2 separate regions of the Homo sapiens genome follow, and region 1 is linked to region 2. Evidence: fine-mapped expression QTL. Tissue or cell type: hippocampus. Region 2 holds a variant in brackets; the other region holds the start of a gene. All regions are shown on one strand. Distances are from middle to middle.

The links. PIP is the estimated chance that this variant, and not a neighbour inherited with it, causes the effect.
Region 1: it holds the start of MTSS1, and the variant in region 2 is fine-mapped to the expression of MTSS1 in hippocampus (GTEx, PIP above 0.99).

The regions. Positions count from the first base shown.
Region 1 is chr8:124,727,014-124,729,695 of GRCh38, forward strand. It overlaps MTSS1 (MTSS I-BAR domain containing 1), which reads right to left and starts at 1,460. Exons shown (of 14, transcript NM_014751.6): 1 at 871-1,460. The coding sequence starts at 942. It overlaps LOC105375741 (a long non-coding RNA gene), which reads left to right and starts at 1,526. Exons shown (of 3, transcript XR_002956670.2): 1 at 1,526-2,682.
Region 2 is chr8:123,852,690-123,855,371 of GRCh38, forward strand. The region is part of intron 1 of FER1L6 (fer-1 like family member 6); the gene reads left to right. Among named protein-coding and RNA genes, the nearest start is that of FER1L6, 2.0 kb to the left of the region's middle. The variant T/C (reference allele first, on the strand shown) is at 1,499.

The DNA.
Region 1 (2,682 bases), 870 kb after region 2:
CATCCGAGGATCAGGTTATCCCCAGTCCCACCCTTTGCAGGAAAAAACCAGGGTGTTGTTCCCCGCCCCCACGCGCGCGCGCGCACACACACATGCACGCGCGCACACACACACCATCTTCACAACCCTTCCAAGAGAAAACCTAGAGTGTGTGTCCGTTTGGGTCTGGGAGGGCAGGATACAGTTATTTCGGGGGCCCCAATCTTGCCTTTAGGCTCAGCTGGGAGAAGGCGGGGCCCCTGCAAGGCTGCCCGGGAACTTCGGCCCCGCGCCCCGCGGGAGGGCTAAGAGAGGGCACGCACACCTTTACCAGCTTCGGAACGGCCCAATTAATAACTAATTTGCTCAGATACCCCACTCCAAGTAGACCTGACAGCCAAGGAGGGACTGGCTTTCCCTCTCAGTCTCCTAGGCTAGGGGACTCCTTCCTGCGAGCGGGCAGAGCCCCCACTTCCTCCCCACCACCGCGCCAGGCGCCCCCACCCCGTGCCCGGAGGAATCAGGTGTCCTCCCGGGCATCCAGCCCCCGCGGGTCCCAGACACTTACTTCAGGGACAGACAATGGGAAAACTTGCAGCCAGTGCCTTGAGCCCCCGAGGGAAAGAAATGGTGCCGCCCCCTGGGACAATGAGCGGGGGAGATGGCGTGGGACAGCAGACACCCCCCAGAGAAGCCACCCGCCCAGTGACCCCGCAGAGCCCGGAGCAGCGCCCCGGGTGAGCAGGTGACACTCCGGCCGGGAGCTCCCGCAGGTGGCCGGTGGCCACACTGCAGGGAAGGGCCGGGTGCCCGGCCCGGGGTGGAGGCGAAGCGCGGCGGCGAGGTCAGAGCGCGGCGGCCGGCGCCGCAGCCGCACCCCCGGCGTCCTACCTTCATGTCGCTGATGATGGTCTGGAAGAGGCCTCCGAGCGCGCTGCATTCCTTCTCAATCACAGCCTCCATTTTCCCGGCTCCGGCAGGGCGAGGGCACACACGCGGGGCCGCTGGACTGCGCGCGGGGCCGGGGCTCGCTCACCCCAGAAGGAATTTCACCTTCCGAGAGACCCACCTCGGACTCGCAGCCTCTTCTGCAGCGAGGACGGGGTGCACCAGACCGACTGTTCTCTGCCCAAAATAATAACAGTAATTTAAAAAGCCAAACCGCTCTGTAGGGTATTCGCCTACAAGCAGCGCTCGGCTCCTGGCCTTAAAAATGCCGGGAGAAGACTGACAATCAGGCCACCACTGGTGCCCACTACGGAAACGGCAAAGCCCATCTTGATGCAGAGAAAATCGCCCGCTGACCCGGGGCCAGCGCCATTGAAAAACGCAAGATTTTCCAATTTAATAAATTTTTCTGCAATTAAAAAAAAATCGCCCAACAGCAGAGCGGGTCAGCTCGCGGCGTCCGGATCTGTTGCTCGCAGCTGCGGCCGCCGCCTCCTTTTCACTCCTGCGCGCCCGGCCCCGGCGCTCGCTCTGGCTGGGCTCCCGGGGACGTTCGGAGGGGCGCACGCGCGCTCGCGGCCGTGCCCGCCAAGCGGAGGCGCGCTCTCGCGGCCGTGCGGCCGCCGCACGCGGGCGGGGCTGGGAGCGCGCGCCCGAGAGGCGCGTGGGGCACCCGCCGCAAAGAGGAGCCTGCTGGTCTGCTGGCGGGCAGGCGGCGCTGGGCCGGAGCCTCTCCCTCCGGTGCGCACAGCGCACCCTCTCCTCCCCCGGCCGCCCGTCGCAGCGCGGAGAGGGCGTGTCGGCACCCTGCCTGGCGAGCGCCCACCCCTACAATGGCTGCGAGCGCGCGGGACGGAGGGTGCACCGCCGCTCCCCGGGGACTTGCACGGGTGGCGCGCCTAGCCCAGAGCCCGCTTGTAGTGAGCGCTCAGTAGGGCGGGAAAGCTGCTGCCGCTACTGCGGCCTTCTGAGAAGACGCCCATTCTCTGATGTCAGGACTGCATCGCCGAGTCCTGATTGCAAATAGCGAAATATATAATTAAGGAGAGTTCGGGGGCGTATCCTGCAATGGGATGCCGAGTTCGATAAAGTTGCAGGATGCTGGGAAAGTGGATTGATTTGCTGTTGCTAAATGAATGGAAACAGCGTTAGAGCTTCTGTCCACGATCCATCAGTCTATCGAGATTGCTGATTGCCTATGACTTGGACGGTTGATGGTTTTCAGGCCCACTGAGAGCAGCCAGCGTTGGTATAACCGCAGGGAGCCCTCCTGGGAGGTTGAACCTGCAGAGCGCAAATGTGCCCAGGTTGATTTGGGGCCTAGTGGTCCATTTTCACAGCTCCACTGCCTATCTGCATAACCAGGAGCCCTCATTCAGATGAACGCCAAATGGGCCAGAGGGAGGAGAATCAAATGAGCAACTTTTAAAAGATATTAAGACATAGGCACCTAACTCCGGACAGTTCCTTTAACCCTTGAGCTAACCATTTGAAGCACAAAACATAACAAAAGAAAAGACTGGGGGGAGTGGGGCCAAAAGAAACCAAGTGCAAAATTCTGTACACTTGTGTCAGATTCACTCCGTAATGGGAAAAGGTCTGGCTTTGAAAACTTTATGGATCAAAGGGATGCATGGAGTTACACAGCACAGCTGCAGAAGATAATGTTCCCCTGGATCACTCTGCCCAACTCTTAACTGCAACCCACCTTCCCCATCCGTCTCCCCGAAATCACCCGGAAGGGTGTTACCTTCA
Region 2 (2,682 bases):
TGAGTTCTCTTAAATTTCTCACTCAGTTTTCCCTAATGGTAACATCTTATATTACCATGGTACATTTATGAAAATGAAGAAACTGAAAATGCAGCATTACTATTAACTAAGCTCCACGCTTTATTTGGATTTCACAAGTTTTTCCACGAATGTCTTTTTCTGTTCTAGGAGCCAGTCCAGAATCCCACATTGTAATTTTTGGAGATGGATTTTGAGGCAAATGTAATCATCCCTAAGGTTATATATCATATATCATATATGAAATATGTATTAGATATAGATGTATTCTATGTGTCTATTTAGCTACCTATCAGATCAATTTTATTCTTATTTTTGTAGAGACGGGGCCTCGCTATGTTGCTCAGGTTGGTCTCAAACTCCTGGGCTCAAGCGATCCTCCTGCCTCAGCCTTCCAAAGTGCTCGGATTACGTGCGTGAGCCACTGTGCCCACCCTCAGACTTTAAAATAGACGAAATCTTTTTTTGAGACAGTCTCACTCTATAGCCCAGGCTGGAGTGCAGTGGTACAATCTTGGCTCACTGCAGCCGCCACCTCCCAGGTTCAAGTGAGTCTCGTGCCTCAGGCTCCAGAATAGCTGGGATTACAGGTGCTTGCCATCACACCCGGCTAATTTCTGTATTTTTAGAGAAGACGGGGTTTCACCATGACGGCCAGGATGGTCTCAAACTTCTGACCTCAAACGATCCACCCACCTCAGCCTCCCAAAGTGCTGGGATTATAGGCGTGAGCCACCGTACCCGGCCTAAAATAGAAGAAATCATTTTTATTCAACAGTTCTTAGAAAGGTCTTAATGAGGAAATGATACAGATGATGATTTGGACCCAAGGCTGTTGAAAAATTGTTACTTTTTTCCTGGGGTATTGTATTAATCAGGGGAGATTTTACAAGGGTGGATGAGTAGAGAAAAAGGGGTAGGTACGCCTCACCACGGGCAAGCGTGGAGTAACATATTTTGAGAGAACCTATCCAAGTTGCACGTATGCAGGTGACATGCTCATGGCTATGATGAAGACCTGGAGGAGGAAAAGGCCAGAAAGCTGCAGACAACCCAACAGTGTCAAGCACAGAGGCTGGTTTTCACTGAGAACGATGTAAGAAGGAACAACATCGCGGCCTTGATGAAGCCACAGTGATGCTACCCAGGGACTCTGCAGAGCTGCCAGTCTCCTGCAACTCCACAGAGCCTGGACAGGGCAGCAGAAGGTGCACCTCTGAGGAGCAAAGGATGCAGGGCTTCTGTGGGCCTGGCTCTCAGGGAAGCATCAGGGACCGTGATTAGAAAGTTTACGTCTGAGTGCTGGCCCTTCAGTAAAGGCCTGTGTGACTTCTGGCAGGCTCCTGTCAGTCCTGAGTCTCTTCATCTATAAAATGAAAAGACGTCTGGTGAGATGGTTTCTCAGGACAGTTACGGCTCCAACATGATGCCACGGCAATTATAACATAAACAATGCCTTATGTTTGTAAATGATCTAGGC[T/C]TTTCTGAGCTGTTTCGAGGAAGTTATTGCATTTTATCCTTATGACAACACTGAGAGGATGAGAAAAAAATATTACCTGCATTTTATTACTCCTTTCCCCAGTAGGGTGTTGATACCCTCTAGATCATTCCAAGCTCTGGGGAAATCCAAGGCTCCTCCCACAGTGCACACCCAGATGTCTGCGTGTTCTGGGAGATTATGTGGTTGCAGTCACAGTCACTTTCCTTCTGGGCTGTCACAGCTTCATCTCGGATCTCTGCTGTGTAGCATGTCAACTCAAATGTGAAACTTAGATTCATTGCCACAAAAGAGTCCATCACACTGTGTTTCTGAGTGTGGTGGTCTATGATGGGGATTGGGACAGAGGGCCAATGGAGGAGGTGTTCCCATTTCAGGAATGTGAATAGAACAGGGGACCGAAGGGTATCTTCTGTCCCTTTATTACCAAGGGTGTCTTCACAGGCCCTTCTCATTTTGTCTAAGCCTTGGGGATGGGCTCTCAGCAGAACAAAGAAAGAAGCCCATTCTGGGAGGAGGAAGCAGCTTGAGCAGAGGTGACTGTGGGGACTGCCAGGCATGGTGGGGGATAGCGGGAGACTGTGGGAGTGAAACTGGGAGTGAAAGCCAATCTCTCCAGGCTTCCTGGCACTGCGTTTATTCTTCTGCTATACACTTACCATAATCTGTCTCGTATCCTAGTTTGTTAAAATTTTTATTGAAGTGAAATTCATGTAACATAACTATTTCAAAGTGTACAGTTCCGCAGCATTCGGTACATTCACAATGGCTTACAATCATCACCTCTACCTAGTTCTAAAGCAGTTTTAGCTCCAAAGGAGACCCTATTACTCTCAGCTTTCCCTCTTCAATCGGCCCTGGGTCACAATGAATCTGCATTTTGTCCATACGGATTTACCTATTTTGGAGATTTCATATAAATGGAATCGAAGGTTGCCCAGGGGACAGATGAAAAGGCTGGAATTTAGCTCAAACAGTTCAGGATCCAGGACAGTTCCAGGCATCATGGGAGAGGGATGCTGTGATGCGTGCTCTCAGTTCTTTTATGTGTTTGGGGAGCCTGACTGGAATGGATAGTAGGTGGCCACAAAACCACAAATGGCATTCCATTTAAAACTGCGAGCTCCTGGCAGGCAGGGAGTTGGTTTGATTTTTTGCTGTGTCCT